Homo sapiens: one gene and its partners. The protein of the gene in region 1 purifies or fractionates together with the protein of each later gene. This does not show direct contact. Each region holds a gene or a part of one and is shown on either strand. Other genes may lie near its edges.

Region 1 (4,798 bases):
GGCCATTGTCTGCTGCCCCTTTGAGATGGACTACTATGTGGTGCGCCAGCTCTCCTGGGAGCACGGCCACGTCCTGTGCACCTCTGTCAACTACCTGCGCACTGTCTCTCTCTATGTCTCCACCAATGCCCTGCTGGCCATCGCCATTGACAGGTGAGTGCAGCAGCAGTGGGGACAACAAAGGCGGTCAGGGAGGAAGGGGCATTGGAATTGCCCCCTCCTGTACTGCAGTTGCAGATTGATGAGAGGTGTCTCTATTCCCCCTAGATGTGGTTGCATGGGGGACTCAAAAGCTTGCCCATTGACTGACAGTGAGAAGAGTTCTCCTTTTCCAGCTTTGTTCAGACAGAAGACAGCAGAGCCCTCTAGAGTTGGGTGATGGGAAGCTTTTGATCTCCCTTGCTATGGATGTTTTCCTAGATATTACACCTTTCAAGGTCTAGAGTAGACAGGTAAGAGGAGATATCGAGGGAAACTTTAAGCGTCAGGCAGTTACCTCTTGAGTCAATGTGGAAATCTTGAAGGAGGTTTCTATCTCATCAAGACTTCCTCTACTAAAATATGACCTTCTAGCATCATCTGTTTTTAAATAAGATTCAAGGATTTATGACTGGCTGTGGTAAACAGTTCAAGCCTATAATCCCAGCAATTTGGGAGGCCGAGATAGGAGGAGCATTTGAGGCCAGGAGTTCGAGACCAGCATGGGCAACATATCCAGACCTCACCTTTTGAAAAAATTAAAAAATTAGCTGAGCGTGGTGGTGTGTGCCTGTAGTCCTAGCTAGTTGAGAGGCTGAGGCAGGAGGATCACTTGAGCCCAGGAATTCCAGGCTGCAGTGAGCTATGTTCATGCCACTGTGCTCCAGCCTGGGTGACAGAGGGAGACCTTGTCTCTAAAAAATAAATAAATAAATAAAAATAAAAAGATTGAGGGATTTGTTTTGAAAAAAAAGGGAACATATGTTTATTTACTTTTTGTTGTTGCATTAATCACTTTGCACCTTTTAGTCCATTTGCACAGATAGTGCAGAAGACCTGTTTCTGGTGATCGCAAATAAAATCAGTAAGAGCAGCCTCTGCATATCTTTCTTCAACTTAGTCTCTTCCTTTAGTGTAAACTTGTGCTAATGGGCCAGGCTGGTCTTTGTTCCTCGGGGGACAATCTTTGCTAGCTCCTCTGCCCACAGCTGGACTGTCATTACAAAGCACCTGGTTACAGTCTAGAGACAATTATCCTGAGGATCAAATCAGGCTTCTGTGTACTTGGATCTGAACAGCCTGTCTCTCTCCTTTAACCCAGAGAGCCTGAGGCATACATGCTCTCCCTGTTCTCTGGCCTCAAGGATCTGAGGGGGTTTGACCTGGCCCTCACAGTCAGGACAGTGTTCTAGGGAGGAGCACAGCTAAGAGAGCTTGTTTTCTGAGACCGTAGGCAGGGCGACCAGGGGTGGGATGACCGAAAAGGATAACCTGAAAAAAGGGGGTTACCAAGGAACCTCTGTCTATAAAACCGCTGAGGGGTGGAAACTCTGCCTCCCTTCTCTAGGGAAGGACATCAGGAAGTTAGCAGCTTACATAGCCCTTGGTCTGTCCCCGTAGATCCTTGCAGAGTGCTACTTCTTCTTGGCCAAATTCCCTCCACTGAATCACAGAGCCCTGCAGCTTTTCATTTACCTGGAGGCCAAATTCCCTCCACTGAATCAAAGAGCCCTGCAGCTTTTCATTTACCTGGACAAGGACCCCGCATGAACCCACTGAAGGAGCAGGAGGGGAGCAGTCAAGTAGAGTATCTACTTCGTAGGTTCCTTTCAAAGCTGCCAAGGAAGAGCTCCAGGGACTTTGTCTCTGAACTTTTTTGAAAGTAGAAGCCGCCACCTTCTCTCTTAGCCCATGAACAGGACAAAGCATACAGAGTCATTTCCTGAAGTTTCATACTAGCGAGAAACTACATGTGCTCAGCTACTAAAAGCAGGGTAGGGTGCCTCCTGTGGAGTGGGACCCTACTCCCCGGATGAGATCCATTTTACCACTTGAACGGAGTAACAATGGTAGGAGGAAGTAGCTTCAAGGGGAAAGGAAGCCAGGATACACTAAGGGGCATTGGGTTATTTGGAACATGTAAGAGTGATATCTATGTCAATCAGTCAGTCTCCATCTACTGAACTTCTTCAAGCTTATAACCTCCTTTCATACCAAACAGAGCTTGTCTGAAATACTGCAAGCATTTCTCTTGCAGTGTGAGTTTACACAAAGGAAATTAGATACAATAAGAAAGATGAATTAGAAAAAATGCTTTGCACCGTGGGAGCTTCTATGGTTGAGTGGGGTTATGATAGGAAGCTTGTACCCAGACCTCAAGGAAAGCACCATGTGCCTTCACAGGGCTGCCCAATGGTCTTGGTGGATGAATGGCTGCACCAATGCCCATTCTTTTATTGATGTTTGTGATCTTTGCTGCAATTATTTTTATTTGTATGTGTTGTTACCATCTAATTGTGGTCTAGGAATCATTAATTTTTCTCTGGTCTCACGTGTTGTTCAGGATTTGATCAGTTGGGAGCAACTAATTTTTATCTTGGTTTATAACAGATCTACTTAGTTGTAAAAATGTCTTTATTTTTGCTTAATGAAATTTCTGTAGCCATGTTGGCAGTTATTCTGCCTGGGTTTAAGTACCAGCTGTATTGTGTGTTGGGTATTATGTTAGTTATTTGACCTCTCTCTGCCTCAGTTTTCTCGCCTACAAAATGAGGATAAAAAGAAAGCCTATTGTATTGGGTTGCTTTGAGGATTGAATGAAATAAATATATTTAATTTCTTAGAACAATATTCAAAACAGTAAGCAATAAATAAACAGTGGATATGATAATTCTTAAATTAACCCTTATAGGAATGTCTACAACAAAAAAGCAGGTAAACTAATGAACATTTCTGACACACTAACCTTTTTGCTTTCATTGAAATTATTGTTTTTATGATGTGATTTAAAAAAAATACAAGATTTTTACAAAATGCCAGAACAGAACTATTTATCATCTACCTGCTTGTATTTGTCTATATTATTGGTTCCATTGTTCTCCGAGGCATCTAACCTAGAAGAAAGTCTCCTTTGTCCTGGCTGCTCTCCCTTCTTTACCAGCATTCATTCAACCTCCAGGTCTTGGCAATACCCGTTTGTTCATTCAGGGCTGGTATCCTAGTCTCCTCTTGGTCTTCCTGCCTTCAGTGTTTCTTGGATCTGCCCATCTGTCAACGCTACTCCCCTGACAATCCATCCTAAACTTTCATTCATTCATTCATTTAAACAATCCATTTTTATAGAGTAACTGTGATGTGACAGATGCTATTGCAAGCACTGGAGATACGACAGTGAATAAGACAAAAAAAACTCCTTGCTTTCCTGGAGCTTATAACCAAAGGATGGAGAGAGATCCAGTCAGGCAAACACAAAAGGAAGGTAATTTCAGAAGCAAGAAATACTCTGAACAAAAGAAGTACACAGGTAAAATGTCGAGGGTGGCTGAGGGTGGGACCTATTCTAGGTGAGTAGTCAAGAGAAGGGTCTCCGAGGAGAGGCCTTTGAACTGGCTTCTGAATGACACAGGGGGAAAGAGCCTGCCTTGGGAAGACAGGGAGCAAGCATCCCAGACAAGGGGGATTGTAAGTGAAAAGGCCCAGAGGCAGGAACAAACCAGATGGGTTCTACAAACAGAGGAACAGAGAGAAGCCTCCATGTGGCCCGAGGGAAGTAAGCAAGGCTGCAGCCAAATTAATCTTCTGTCTTGTACGTGTCTCCACTCTCCTGCTTAAAAACAAAAAACCAAACACCGCATATTCTCACTCATAGGTGGGAATTGAACAATGAGATCACATGGACACAGGAAGGGGAATATCACACTCTGGGGACTGTTGTGGGGTGGGGGGAGGGGGGAGGGATAGCATTGGGAGATATACCTAATGCTAGATGACGAGTTAGTGGGTGCAGTGCACCAGCATGGCACATGTATACATATGTAACTAACCTGCACAATGTGCACATGTACCCTAAAACTTAAAGTATAAAAAAAAAAGACCTCTAATAACTCCATTGTCTACAAAGTATGGCTCAAACTCTTTCACCTGTTCTTCCAAACTTTTATTATCTAGCCCCAGACTGCTTCCCAGTCTCATGGTTAAACATATTTATGTCCTGTTTTCCCAAAAATAGTTGCAATCTTTCTGAGAACTGTCCCCATGGCTTTTTATATATTAAAAATAAATTTTTTTAGAGATGAGATCTTGCTATGCTGCCCAGGCTAGTCTTGAACTAGTCTCAAGTAATTATTGTGCCCCGACCTCCCAAAGTGTTGGGATTACAGGTGTGAGCCACTGTGTCCAGCCAGCTTTTTACATGTCTATTCACCCAGCGCTAGGCACTCAATGAGGGTGAAGTTGCACCAAAATCCTGTTAGGTACTCAGAATTCACAGAGAGTAAAAGGTTATAAAAGAAGTAAGACATAATCACAGCTCTTGGGGGGCTGACCATCTAGAGTTGGGGGTAGGGTGGGACCAGGGAGAACTAACACTTACAAAACAGTTAAAGAATAAGTAAAGGATAAATTTTAAATAACATTTAGAGAAGGGTGAGATCATTTTGTGCCGGAGTAGTCAGAGGAGGCTTCATGGAGGAGGTGGATTTCTAACTGTCCTTCAACAAATGAAGATCAACAAAGGAGAGGAAAGTTTTCCCAAGAGAGTGGGTAGAACAGTGTGTGGAAAAGCCTAGAGGTGGGATTGCCTGAAGTGAATTTGAGGTAC
Region 2 (4,798 bases), on another chromosome or scaffold:
CCCATTTTACAGATGAGGAAACCAAAGCTTGGGGAGGTTGGGCTACCTGCCCCACATCACCCGGCTGTTAAATGGCAGGGCCCTGCCTCGCACCAGAACTTCAGCTTGTCAGCCCAGCTTCAACCTCTGGGTGCTCATGGAGCCCCTTGGCTGCTTCTCTGCACCTATGGGAAGCCACCACGGTCGGCACAGTTGGGGGGCAGATGCCCCAGTTTCACTTCCCTGTGTCCAGGCCGTCGTGAAGTCTGTGGCTTCCTAGGCCTCCCTGTCCCCTGGACGCTGCTGCTCGGGTGCCTGTCCTCAGCCCTCTTCAAACGATGCCCAGGATCCGTGCTCTGCCAGCACATCCCTGCACACACCACCGCCCCGCCTCCGGGGCTTTGTTGGTGTTTACTGGGATTGTCTCCTTTCTAGTGTTTGGGGACAAAGAGGATGCAGCCTCCCAGAGGATATGCAGCAGAGCCTCATTCTGGAAGTCAGAGTCCCCTGTAACGGCCCTTCCCGTTTCCAGGCTCCCCCCTCCCACTCACTCTCCTGCTGCTGCGCACTCTCCCTGAGCAACCGCCGCACCCCGGGCATACGTTGGGTGGTCCCCTCCCTCTGCCGTCTGCCCTGCTGGTGAGCACAGCTGTGCTTCAGGGCGACCGCAGATGCCCCGCTTATTGGCCTCTGTCCTGTGGTATCTGTCACCAGCTGCCCTGGGAGGTCGTCGTTCTTGTCTTGCTCACGTTTGCATCTCTGCCAGCCTAGGGTGGTGCTTGCTTAACTGATGGGATGTTCCGCTCGCACCAGGAGCGACCCTAGAATGGTGGATTGGGGCGTTTTCCATCCTGATGTTGGAGTTGCTGCTGTGGATTCAAGTATGTTTTGCTTGGAGATGGGCTGGAGGCCCTGGCAGTGCTAAGTTCTGAGTTGCATTTTGATGCTTCTGTCGCTGAAGCCCAGGAGGCCTCTTCTCTGGTCCTTCTGGTTGAATGAAACACGGTGTTGCCCACTTAAGCGGGAAGTGCAGGTGAGGAGCTGCTTGGGAGGCTGGCCTCTGGCTCCCTGGCCCCTGAGGGAACCTGACTCTTACAGTCTTTCCAACCCCGCACTGGGGCCAGCACACAGTGTCCCAGGTCCTGAGCAATGTGCTAAGGCCCCTGTCTGAGGAGGTGATGATTTCCCAGGGCTGGGCAGAGACTCTGGGAGCTGGCCAGCCTGCTACAACCACTGAGCTCCCCAGGGCAGGGACCAAGCCCCATCCAGTGCCCCCTCTAGCAGGTTCCCCCTACCTGGTGCTTTCCTAGGCTGAGGACCCAGCGCTGGGCTCGCACCTAGAACAGAGCCCCTCCCACCTGCAGGGAATAGTGAGGCATCCCGCAGGAGCTTTGTTTCAATACATGTCCGTGCTCAGGGCTCTGGAGTGGTGTCATCATTAAGGACACGTGCCCGTCTTGTTTTCCCTCAGTGTGTATGTTGGGCTTGTGGACGGGGCAGGTACAGAGCATGCAGCTGCCCTAGCTTTTTCTTAGGGACCCATCTCCCTCCGGGCTTCCTCAGGCTTCCCAGGGGCTCGGCATCGAGCTAGCAGGAGCCGAGATAGTGGCCTCCAGGCCCTCGTGTCCACCCATCAAATGGGACCCATAGGGCCAGCTGCTGTCCCCCCAGAGCTGGAACCGTTGTGGGCAGGGGCAGCCCCTCCAGGCCCGAGCTCCTCTCTTGCTTGTGTTGCAGGGACATTCTGTCACGTTACCTCAAACCTTGCCCACCAACTGTGGTTTGTCCCAGAGTCAAGTTAAGGACGGAGGTTGTTGGCTTGCAGAAGAGAAGTGGGCTGAGGGGTTTATCAGGGAAACTTGGGGGCTTCTCCCAGAGCAAAAACAGGGTCCAGCCTAGGCTGGCTCAGAAGAGATTGACCCAGATGCTGCCTCAACAGGCCGGGCAGAGGCAAGCATAGGCTAGGGGCCAGGACTTCCCCCACCTGCGTGGGGACCTCGTCCGAGCTGTGGACAGTGTTTCACATGTGGTCATGTGTCTGACGCCGCCGTGCTGGTGCCTGGGGGACCTGCAATTCATGCCCAGCTCCCCATCGACCCCTGGCCTACCTGCCTCTTGGGACCTTTCAGGGCTCACCCCCAAAGGCACTGTGGGAGAGGACCCCCTGGCAGGTAGGGCCCGCCTGGCCAAAGTGGGTGGCAGCTGCTCTGGCCACCAGAGAGCCCACCCCCAACTCTAGCAGGGATTACCCAGGGCTGAGAGTGACAGGAGTTAGAGCTGCTGGCCCCAGGGACAAGGGCTAATCCCTTGCCTCCCCCCTCTTCCGGGCCGCCTCATTCTAGATCAGTGGAGCCATTTCCCTAGCAACAGAGCAGGAGATTCAGAATGGAAACATGACTTCCTGGGGTGGGCGGGGCTTCATGGCAGGCACCCTGGACAGAAGCCACAGCCCCTGCTCAGCTGTCATTGGTCCCCTAGGCAGGCTCAAGGGTTGACCTTCCTTTTCAAACAGGGTAAGAGAGCTGAGGGGCCTTCCGTGGGGATAGGAAGCCTGTCACCCAAAGTCAGTTGGGTGCAGAGCCTTGTCCGGCTCAGGGGTGGGGGGTCACACAAGCAGGTCTTCACCCATCAGGACACGCCCCCATGCACAGTTACAAAGAAGCCTGTACAACAGCTAGTAATTAGCACAGGGAAGTCCACGTGCTTAGTTGCCCGGGAGTGCTAGATGCGGGCACCGCAGCAGAGCAGGTCTCCACATGCCCCAGAGCGAGTCTCCTTCCCTGGCTGTTCATGTAGTCGGCGCCCGGTGGCGCTGTCCTAATGCCGAGCACTGAGCGCCTCCCTGCATTCTCCTGTAGGATCCTCACAGTGGCCTCTCCTGGGGCAGGGATGCTCAGCAGCCCCTTTTGACAGGTGAGGGATGAGACTGCGGCCCTAGAAGGCAGAGCTGCTCTCCAAGGCCATGCCTGTTGCCATACTGCCTGCCCAGCTGGCTGGCTCCGTTTCGTCGCTGGTCTGCAGGCCTTGCCCGCTGTCTCCATGCTGTTGACAAGATGCAGCGGTCCTTGTCCTCTGTGAGGGCTTGGGCCTGTGCTGGGGCAGGGGGTGTGGGGTGAGAAGGGTGTGGGCCGAGGCTGCTGGGGGAGATCCCAGCTGCCCCTGTGGGCCCTGGGCCTTCCCCGCAGGGCCTGGTCCCATCTCCCCTTCTCTCCCAAGCCTCCCCCCACTCCATGTAACTTGGCTTTTTTGCGTACATACTCTAGGCCAGTCACTGTTAAGTGCGTCCCACGAGCAGTCCCTTGTGAGGGAGGTGCTTTTGTCCCCAGCTGACAGGTGATCACACATCTCCCTTCATATGCCCCTGGTCAGGAGAAGGGGGTGGAGGGGAGGGCCGGGCAGCAGCAGTAGTGTCAGAAGCGGGAGCCCTGCTTCCCAGGGCCCAGCCTCCCCCTCAGGCCCCTGGCCAGCCCGATGGGTTAGCGACAGAGCTGGCTCTTTGCAGAGCACAGCACCTTTCTGTCTTGTGTCACTGCGTCCTTGCAGCATGCAGAAGCCGGGGGTGCTGTGGTTGCCCCCACTTCACAGATGTGGACACTGAGGCTGAGAGTACAGGAACTTCCTGGGGCTCCGTCCTCCTTTCTCTGAGCAGCGCCTCAGGATGAAAGGCCAGAGGGCCGTGCTCTCTGGTCCTGTGGACGGGGGGCCGTCTGTGCAGGGAGTGGCTGCCCACTCTGGCAGGGGCTCAAGCGGTGTCCTCGAGCTGGAGGTGGCCCCTGGGGGAGAGGTGGAGAGTCGGAGCAGCAAAGCCGGGGCCCCAGGGCTCCCACAGCTGCTGCCTGTCACCCACATTGTTCCTGGATTTCCGGAACTGGGGGGCTTTTTTGGGCAGTGGCGGTCTCTCTGCCCACCCCTCCCCAGTCCCCCAGTGTCCCACAACCAATGAGGTGGGTAGAGGGGGGCCCAGAGCATAGATCCCCCAGTGTCTGGGCTGGGATTATCCCGAGGCCCCACCTGTCACCACACGTGTAGCCAGCGAGGGCCACTGTCCTCTCCACCAGAGAGGGTTGGCCCCAGGCTGGGCAGCTGTCACTTGCTCCCTCCCCTCAGCCTCCTTGGCTCTCACATCCTGGGACTGTCTCTCTCTGGAGCACAGGAGGCCCCTTTCAATCTGGAGGCTCCCTGGGGCGCACCCTTTCTGCAGCCCAGGATCAAGGACCTCGTGGGGGAGGGGTGGTCCTCGAACCTGGTCCCAGTCAGCCCTGGTTTGGCCAGCCCTGGCCCCTGTTGTGCTCCATGTGTGAGCCCCAGGCCACCAGGAGCAGGTGGCCCTGGGTCCCCGTGCGGCCGCACTGGAGCCTAGGGATCTGCTGAGGCTCCAGCTGGCCTCCTCCCCTTGAAGACTGAGAAGCCCAGGTTGGCCGTGGCCTCCCTGTCTGGTCCTGGGTGGATGCAGCCGTACCTAGTCTGCGTTCCTCTCCTTCAGAGCCCTTGTTCCTCCTGCTGTTCTGGGGCCAGCATCTCCAGCTTTGCATCCCCAGATCCCAGATCCCACTCCCAGCACCCTTTCCCTGGTGGCCCTGGGGCAGGGCATGGAGGTCCCTCTCCAGCAGGTGCTGGGGTCTTCCAGGCCAACCCGCTCTTTCCTTGGTCCACAGGATGAAGCCAACGCACACGATGGTCAACTGCTGGTTCTGCAACCAGGATACGCTGGTGCCCTATGGGAACCGCAACTGCTGGGACTGTCCCCACTGCGAGCAGTACAACGGCTTCCAGGAGGTGTGGGTCACAGGCAGGCGGACGGGTGGGCACGCGGGGGTGG
Region 3 (4,798 bases), on another chromosome or scaffold:
TCCCATTCCCCACCCGATGCCAGCCCAGCTCCCTCCGTTTGGGATCAGCCTCTCCCTGGTCTTTGTAGAAGACTGAGCTAGTGAGGCATAGGGGCACTAAAGGAGGATGTTGGGTTGTCAACTTCCACGGAAACAGATGAAGAAACTCTATTCAACTGAACAGAAAAAAAATTTGTCAACAGAAAGCTAAAAATAGGCTTAAATTGAATTTCAACATAAGAGAAAGAGAAAGAGAGAGAACAGAACGTGAATGAATAAAACTAAAACACACCTGTGCCAGGAGTTGCATAAATGAATCAACAATATCAGGATGATCCCTGGGCCCTAAAATATAATAAAGATGGAACTTAAGAAAAAATTATACAAACAGCAACTCAACCTCATATAGTTATGTGGGACTGAGAGCCTGCAGGGAGACAGCGTGGGGGCACATGAGCAGCAGGAAGCAAGATAAAGAAACAAAACATACAAAAACCATGAACTGGGAGAAGCCCAACAGAAAGAGACGGCAAAGTGAAGGACGGGCCTGCCCCAGCTCCCTCCAAGGGGCCTTCCGCCTACTCCCCACTCCTCCTCAGGCCATCCCCTCATGTTCCCTTGGTACTTGAGCAATTCTGGACTCCATATAGCTGAAGAAACGGCCACCACACTTACTGTGGCCTCTGGCAGGTTGGGGTAGCCCTACACTGCTCCTAGCACATACCTCCCATCAGCCAGTCATTGAAGAGGAAAGCTGGGATGGCGGTGGGGGGGTGGGGGAGTCAGTCCTTGGTATCTCCTTTTGAGGTTTATCTGAGGGCCCTAGAAAGGCCAGGGCATCAGAGCCTGAGTAAGTGCCACCTCACTTCAATGGCCTTAGGGCTCTTGGTCTGGCAAAGGAAAATAATCTATTCAGTCCACTTAAACCACAGGACTCTTGCTTAGGTAGGGCAGTGCCCAGCATGCTCTGGAGATGGCCTGGCAAGTCACTGGCAGGGCCCAGAGGAGGAAACAGTATCATAAGGCCAAAAACAAGAGCCCCACCCCAGCAAACCTCCTCCACATGGACATGGACTCTGCAGAGAGCCAAGCTCAGGGCTGAGGACTAGTTCCCATCATCTGGACATGCCAAGAAACAGGGAAACAAGAAACATGTCATCCTATGGTCCAGTGGGAAGGCAGAGCCCGAGGAAGGAATGGCTAAGATTGGGATGGCATAACAGGTATGGGAGCCATCCTGTCCAGCGAGACAACCAACAAGCCCAACGTATATGATGTTGGACACTGCTGCCTCCAGTTCTGATCATTCCTGAGGCAAGAATATGGCATGCACCTGGAGCTCCTACCCAGGCTTCTCCACTCTCAGGAGGATGTGGTACAAAACCATCTGCCTAAGACACCACTAAGTAGCTGTGTGATCTTGCGCAAGCCACAAATGCTCAGTTTCCCCATCTGTAAAGCAGATAATCTCTGCCCTGCTTCCTTCTCTAGGCTATGAAGAGTCACCAATAAAGTCTGTCCCTTTGGTATCTGAACCCTGAGTTATTTAAGTCCTAGAAAGTGAGGCCCAGTGTGCACCATGCAGGTTTGATATTCAGCAGCCACCCTGCTAGAGGTGGGCCAGAAAATGAGAAGGAAAGGTTCCAAGGGCAGGGAGCCCTCCCCCTCCTTTATTTAACAGTGTCTGTGGCCTGCTGTATTCTGGCCTCATTCTGGGCACTGGGGATGCAGAGAGAAGAAACTCAACCCTACCCTTGAGGGGCTTAAGTCTAGTAAGAGAGACAGACATGAAAGCTGATTATTGTGTGTGATCAGTGCTGTGTCAGCAGTGTGTATGGGATGCAGTTTCAGTACAGTTAGAAGCACCCAATTCTGCCTCAGAGAGAAATTACTCTGAGAAGTGATGCAGTCTTCCTCCTTTCTAAGGCATGAAGGAGTGAGAGTTCACCCAGTAAAGGGCATAGGACATTCCAGTCAGAGGAGCAAGGCACAGGGATCAAATGGGACACGGTAAGGAAGAGGCAGTGTGGCTGAAATGTTGGAGTCATGAGGACATTGGCAGGAGAGGACATTAGAGGCATGCCAGAGCCTTGTCATGTGGGTGGGAATGGAACAATAAGCTGAGGGCAATGGGAACAATGAAAGGGTTTTAAGCCCGGGATGACAAATGCTCAGATTTGTGTTTTTATGAAGATTATAGCTGCAGTGTGCAGAACAGATTGGAGAGAAGGGGAGATGCCAAGAAAACCCACTAGAAGGTTGCTGATAATCCAGGTGAGACCCTAAACTGAGGCAGTGGCCACGGAGGTGGGTAGAAGTGGACCAACCGAGAGAGAATCAGGAGTCAGGATCAATGGGGCTTGTCCCAGATTGGGTACAGGGAGTTGGGAGAGGTGGAGTTGAGGATGACCACACCAGGTTTCTGGTTCAGTTTTCTCCCCAGTTTGGACCTACTCCATGGCCCACAGAAACAGAGGCCAGGATCATGAGACCAGGCACTGAGGATATGAGCTGCGAGTACTCTGGGCACCAACCGAGACCCCTGGTGAGCCTCAAACCTGTGACCATGAATCCAGGCAAGGCTCATGAGGCTAGCTGAGCAGTGCTGTTTTTTTGTTTTTGTTTCTCCAAACTGGAAGCCTGGATTAGACAACACGAGAAGCCTGAATGAAGCCCCTGCTGCCAACTCTCTCAGGCAAAGGGCCACAGTGAGTAGAGGGCTAGGACCACAGCCAAAGGTACTTGACTTCTGGCCTAGAAAGTACTAAGCCTTGATGCAGGGAAAGGAACCAACAGTCTCTGAGTACTTCACTGTGCAAAAGCCCCTGAGCCAAGGGCCCAGAAGATGTGACTTTAATACCTGTAAACAATCATTTCAAGTATATGTTATCTCCGTTTCACAGATATGGAAATGAAGGCCCAGCAAAGGTAAGTGACTTGCCCAAGGACACACAACTAGTTGGTGGTGATGAACTTAGAATCTAGGTCTAGCTGACTTCAAAAGCCCGTGCTCTTTCCACTTTTCATTATATCCCAAAGTAAAGGAGCCAGCCTAGTGCCCCAAGCCCCTCAGAGCCTCTGCCCACCTCCCACCCCCACTTCCTTCTTCCATATCCAGACTGGCCCTGAGCCCAGCAGGCCAGCAGAAGACATCATTCACCCTCTTATCCACTTCAACCTAAAGTTTCAACTATTTATAAGGTGTTGTGCTTGATCTCACAGGTTTCCCATCAAGTCCCACGTGTGACTCAGGGGACAGAGAAGAACAGAGTGGGCAGCTTTGGCTCCCCATTTGGGGAAGCAGAGGCAGTGGCAGTGGCAGCAGCAGCAGAGACCCCGGTCAGGACCTACCTTGCTGGAAGAGAGTGAGTGTGACGGAGGTGACGAGCAGGAAGAGGGCCTCAATTGGGGGAAAGTGGGCAGGCTCATGAGCAAAGATGTGGACCAGCTACGAGAAAGCAGGGAATGCTGGTCAGCTGAGACCCAGTCTCACCAGGACATGGCAATATCCCTGGAATGCAAGTGGGGACCCCAGCCACGGCAGCCATCTGACCCACCCCCACCCAGGGTCAGGATCTCTGCCCCAACCAGAAGGCCCACCTGTCGAGTGAGGTCAAGAGCAGAGGCCTGGGGGATGGTGCTGTACATCCGACCCAGCATCTCACACAGCTGTGGCACCATGGGGGCAAAGTCATCCAGCAGCGTCTTAACAGACTTCTCAAAGATAGCGCACACCGCCTTGGGAAGAAAGCAAAGGGGCCCTGGTCAGCAGGTCATGACTGGCTGGAACAGCGCTGAAGCCCTGCACAGAGGGGGCCTACGATTGGGCCCTTACCTATAAGCCTTGCCTGGCCCTGCAAACCAAGGAAGGTAAGCAAGTCTGACCCTCACCCTGAAAGGCAGGGGGCAAAGGCCCTTCACTGAGGGGCACAGGATGTAACTGTGGAACTTAACTCCTGCGACTTACATCTCTAACATTTCCTCTCAGGGAGCAGCAACAGCAACAAAAACCTGAATTGAAAAGGGACCAAAGGCAGGTCTTTGGTGCTAAAACAGATGCCTGACTGTCACTCGACCCTAATATTAGAGTCCTTACGTTAAGCACTTCTCATGATATTGGGGAGTTCTAAATGTCTTCCCAAAAGATTCCTTATCTCTATGGGGCAGGATTCACCTCCCTTGTTTTCTCCAAACCATTGTAAGCTGAAGTGTGGCAGTAACATCTTACCCTGCTACACCTCTGAGCAGTCACTATGGGAGCGGAGGGCAAGGGTCAGGGCTCACCTCCACAACCTGGGCATCATTCAACCATTTGCTCAGCACCTTCTGGATAAGCTGGAAGACCTGCTGCAGCACCACCACCACCTGAAGGCACAGGAAGAAGTGAGGCGCTTCTGCTATCCATCACTGTGACCCACTTGAGGAGGACTTGGTGGCAGGGAGGAGGGGAGCAGTTCAGACCTATTACCCCAGAACACACATTGAGGACCCAGGGCATGGGACCCCTGGGGGAAGAAGTGGTTTGCTGAACTCTCTCATGAATGAAAAAGGAGTATTTCCTGAATTCTAGGGATCATCTCAAAGGAAGCCTCAAACTGCAAAGCAGAGATATCACAAGTGCTTCATAAGGTTACAAAAACTTTGTAAACTTAAAAAAAAATCTCTCCCTATCTCTGCTCTGTAAAACCAAGGCTATGGGCTAGCCTCTGAAGAAGTGGAGATGCTATCTCCTCCAAATAGGCTTGAGGTAGGGAGCCCCAAGGAATGCACAGATGCAGGCTTAAGCTGCTCTCCCAGCTTATGGAGGAGCAGAGAGCAG
Region 4 (4,798 bases), on another chromosome or scaffold:
TAGTAGAGACCGGGTTTCACCATGTTGGCCAGGCCAGTCTCAAACTACTGACCTCAGGAGATCCACCGCCTTGGCCTCCCAAAGTGCTGGGATTACAGGCATGAGCCACCTTGCCTGGCTGGGAACATGGATCTTAAGGAAAGAAGGAAGATCATCAGGAATAGAAATATGAATGCACATATAAAGAATGATTATTTCCTCTTAATTTCTTGAAAATATTCACTATCAAGTAATATAACACTTTGTAGGGTTTGTAACATATGAACATGCCTGAGACAACTATAGCAGAAAGAATGAGTAGTGGAGATGAATCAATCTGTATTATTTCAAGTCTCCTACATTTTATAATATTACCATATTAATTCTGCCATACAACTCAGTAATGAAAAGGAATGGAGTACTGATGCATATGAAAATATGACCGAATTTCAAAATAATTATGCTGAGTTAAAGAAACCAGACAGAAAAGCATATATAGTATCTGATTCCATCTATGATATTTATAGCCAGAAATGGTTTAATTAAAAAAGAAGAAGGATCTTAAATCAACGAGCTAAGTTTACAAATGTAGGAATTAGAAAAAGAATGAACCAAACCTAGAGTTAGCATTATAAAGGAAATAATTATTAGAAGAGAAATAAATAAAACAGAGAATAGAAAAACAGTAGAGGCCGGATGTGATGGCTCACGCCTATAATCCCAGCACTTTGCGAGGCCAAGACAGGAGGATTGCTTGAAGCCAGGAGTTTGAGACCAGCCTGGATATGGCAAAACCCTGTCTCTACAAAAAATATAAAAAGCAGCCTGGCCCGGGGGAGCACACCTGTGATCCCAGTTACTCGGGAGGCTGAGGTGGGAGGATCACTTGAGCCCCGGAGATGTAGGTTGCAGTGAGCCAAGATCACATCACTGCACTCCAGCCTGGGCAACAGAGTGAGACTCTGTCTCAAAGAAAGAAAGAAAAAGAAAAAAGAAAAACCATAGAGAAAATCCACAAAACCAACATTGATTCTTCAATACTATTAATTAAACTGACAGAATTCACTAGTGAATTCTAACAAGCTTTTAATGAAGAGCTAATACCACTACTTCTCAAACTCTTTCAAAAACTTGAAGAGAAGGGAACCTTTCTTGACTCTTTCTGTAAGGCCAGCATTGCTCTGATACCCAAGCAGATAAAGATATTACAAGAAAATAAAGCTATATCCCAGTATCCCTAACTGATGCAAAAATCTTCAACAAAATACTATCAGAGAGAATTCAACAGTACCTTAGATGGATTATACACCATGACCAAGTTGGATTTATTTCCGGAATGCAAGAATGTTTGAACAAATGAAAACTGAACAATGTAATACATTGCATTAATAGAATGAAGGGGGAAAAAGACACATGATCATCTGAGTTGATACAGGGAAAGCCTCTGATAAAATTCAAAGCCCTTTCATGATGAAAACACCCAGCAAACTAAGAATAGAAGAAAACTTCCACAACATCATAAAAGCCATGTAAGAAAACCCCACAGCTAACATCATACTCAGTGTTGAAAGACGGAAAGCTTTTCCTTTAAGATTAAGAACAACATAAGGATATCTACCCACCTTTGCCACTCAGCATAGTACTGGAAGTTCTAGCCAAAACAGGCAAGAAAAAGAAATAAGAGCATCTGGACTGTAAAGGAAAAAGTAAAATAATCTGTGTTTTCAGATGATATGATCTTACTGGTAAAAAATCCAAAAGATTTCACAAAAAATTAAACTGCCAAAAATAAAATAATATTAAATTTTTAAAATTTTGAAATTTATTGTTGTTCAGTAAAAGACAGTACAGATTGCAATCTGGGAGATTTCAAACCAAGTGGTAAGAAACTTGCCTTACAGCAGGTATAGTACAGGCTATAAAGGAGGATGTATTTTGACAATTTCATGATTGACTTATAAATTTATATTCTTTTTAAAGGCAATCAGAGCTGTTTAAGCTGATTTTTCTATAGCTGCTTGATTTAACTTCACTGAACCATATTATGTCATGATGAAGGTGTAAAACTTATATTTTGTGGGATTTTTTATGATTATAGCTAATGTTTCAGGGATATCAGGATGTCTTAAGTTTTGGCTACATGGTTATGGGTAATTGCCGTGGGGTATATCTAAACTGTGTTTTTAATTTTTATTTAGTAGTACTAAAATGAATTCATCAAAGAAGCGGAATACAAAATCAACTGGAAAAGTCAATTGCATTTCTATACACTACCAATGAACAATTCAAAAAAAGAAATTAGGAAAAAATCCATTTACAATAGTATCAAAAATAATAAAATAGGAGTAAACTCACCAAGGAGGTGGAAGACTAGTACAATGAAAACTATAAAACATTACTGAAAGTAATTAAAGAATACAAAAATAAATGGAAAGATATGCCATGATTATGAATTATAAGACTAATTATGTCAACATTTCCTAAAGTGATCTATACATTCAATGTAATCTCTATCAAAATCCCAAGGACATTTTTGCAGAAATGAAAAAATGTATCCTAAAATTCATATGGAATTTCTAGGGACCAGAATATCCAAAACAATCTTGAAAATGAATAAAAATGTAGTAGGATTCACACTTCCTGATTTTCAAAACTTCCTACAAAGCTGCAGTAATCAAAACAGGATGGTACTGACATAAAAGCAGATAAATCGATCAGTGGAATAGAATAGAGGAGCCAGAAATAAACACTCACATATATGGCCAAATTATTTTTCACAAGGATGCCAAGACTGTTGAATGGAGGAAAGGGCCGTCTTTTCAATGAAGGGGGCTAGGAGAACCGGATATCCACATTCAAAAGAATGAAGTGAACCTTAGCCTAACATTGTATTTAAAAAATAGCTAAAAACAAATAAAAGATGTAAATGTAAGTGCTAAAGCTATAGAACTCTTGAAAGAAAATATAGGATAAAAATTCTGTGACATTGGATTTGGCAATAATTTCTTGGATGTGACACCATGGACATAGGCAACAAAAGAAAAAATAAACATTTTGGACTTCTTGAAAATCAGTAACTCTTGTGAATCAAAAGATACTATTAACTGGATAAAAAGGCAAAACCCACAGAATGAGAGAAAATATTTTAAGTTATATATCTGATAAGGGCTTAATATCTAAAATATATAAAGAATTCCTACGATCTAACAAAACAAAAACAACCCAGTTAAAAATGGGCAACTGATTTTTATAAACATTTCTCCAAAGCAAATATACAAATGGTCAATAAGTATATGAAAAGATACTTTAATCACTAATCATTAGGGAACTGCTGGTCAAAACGACAGAGATACCATCCTATACCCATCAGGATGACTATTATAAAAAACACACACAGGCCGGGTGCGGTGGCTCATGCCTGTAATCCCCACACTTTGGGAGGCCAAGGCAGGCGGATCACGAGGTCAGGAGATTGAGACCATCCTGGCTAACATGGTGAGACCCCGTCTCCACTAAAAAAAAAATACAAAAAAATTAGCCCGGCGTGGTGGCAGGCGCCTGTAGTCCCAGCTACTTGGGAGGATGAGGCAGGAGAATGGCGTGAACCCAGGAGGCGGAGCTTGCAGTGAGCTGAGATGGCACCACTGCACTCCAGCCTGGGCGACAGAACGAGACTCTGTCTCAAAAAACAAAAACAACACACACACACAATAAGCATTAGCAAATTTGTAGAGAAGTTGGAACCCTCGTGCCCTGTTAATGGGAATGTAAAATGGTGCAGCCACTATGGAAAACAGTATGATAGTTCCTCAAAAGTAAAAACAGGATTAGCAGATGATCCATCATTCCCACTTCTAGGTATACGTCCAAAAGAATTGAAAGCATGGTTTCAAACAGATATTTGTACACCCACGTTTATAGCAGTATTATTCACAATAGCCAAAAAGTGGAAGAAACTCAAGTTGGACAGATCAATAGATAATGTGGTATATTCATACAATGGAGTATTACTCAGCCTTGAAAAGGAAGGAAATACTGGCACATGCTACACAATGGATGAACATTAAAGACATGCTCAGTAAAATGCCATTCATAAAAGGACAAATGAAATAGGATTCCACTTGAGGTACCTAATGTAGTCAAATTCATAAAAACCAACAGTAGAATGTTGGATGCCAGCGGTTGTAAGGAGGGAAGAATGGGAAGATGAAATAACTTCTGAGGATGGATAGTTGTGATTATTGCACAACAACATTAATAAATGTAGTGTCACTGAACTATGTATTTTAAAAGATTAAAAGATAAGTTTCATGTTATATATAATTTACCTTAGTTTTAGATTTAAAAAAACAGCATTTATTTTAGTCACTATAACAATTACACATAAAATGGAAATATTGTTGATTTAAAAAGCCAATGCACAAGCTGGGCACGGCGGCTCACACCTGTAATCCCAGCACTTTGGGAGGGTGAAGCGAGCAGATCACCTGAGATTGGGAGTTCAAGATCACCCTAACCAACACGGAGAAACCCCATCTCTACTAATAATACAAAATTAGCTGGGCATTGTGATGCATGCCTGTAGTCCCAGCTACTCGGGAAGCTGAGGCAGGAGAATCGCTTGAACCTGGGAGGCAGAGGTTGTGGTGAGCCGAGATTGTGCCATGGCACTCCAGCCTGGGCAACAAGAGTGAAAATCCATCTGAAAAAAAAAAAGCCAATACACAATTAAAATGGGATTCTAAAACATACTCAATTAACATTAAATATACAGGTAAGAAGGAACAGGTAAAAAATAGAATGGACAAAAATTGGTAAA

The links. The genes of interacting proteins can lie anywhere in the genome.
Region 2: the proteins of PROKR1 (region 1) and TMEM201 purify together in Homo sapiens (affinity purification with mass spectrometry; one large-scale study listed by BioGRID and IntAct). This does not show direct contact.
Region 3: the proteins of PROKR1 (region 1) and IPO13 purify together in Homo sapiens (affinity purification with mass spectrometry; one large-scale study listed by BioGRID and IntAct). This does not show direct contact.
Region 4: the proteins of PROKR1 (region 1) and TNFRSF10B purify together in Homo sapiens (affinity purification with mass spectrometry; one large-scale study listed by BioGRID and IntAct). This does not show direct contact.

Annotation. Positions count from the first base shown.
Region 1 is NC_000002.12:68,646,154-68,650,951, forward strand, and holds part of PROKR1 (prokineticin receptor 1), read left to right. Parts: coding exon 1-153; intron 154-4,798. UniProt on the Homo sapiens protein: Receptor for prokineticin 1. Exclusively coupled to the G(q) subclass of heteromeric G proteins. Activation leads to mobilization of calcium, stimulation of phosphoinositide turnover and activation of p44/p42 mitogen-activated protein kinase.
Region 2 is NC_000001.11:9,591,256-9,596,053, forward strand, and holds part of TMEM201 (transmembrane protein 201), read left to right. Parts: intron 1-4,634; coding exon 4,635-4,755; intron 4,756-4,798. UniProt on the Homo sapiens protein: Critical regulator of angiogenesis and endothelial cell (EC) migration. Promotes the migration of endothelial cells, which is essential for angiogenesis.
Region 3 is NC_000001.11:43,959,795-43,964,592, reverse strand, and holds part of IPO13 (importin-13), read right to left. Parts: intron 4,345-4,798; coding exon 4,264-4,344; intron 3,718-4,263; coding exon 3,580-3,717; intron 3,428-3,579; coding exon 3,331-3,427; intron 325-3,330; coding exon 272-324; intron 1-271. UniProt on the Homo sapiens protein: Functions in nuclear protein import as nuclear transport receptor. Serves as receptor for nuclear localization signals (NLS) in cargo substrates.
Region 4 is NC_000008.11:23,058,389-23,063,186, reverse strand, and holds part of TNFRSF10B (tumor necrosis factor receptor superfamily member 10B isoform 1 precursor), read left to right. Parts: intron 1-4,798. UniProt on the Homo sapiens protein: Receptor for the cytotoxic ligand TNFSF10/TRAIL. The adapter molecule FADD recruits caspase-8 to the activated receptor.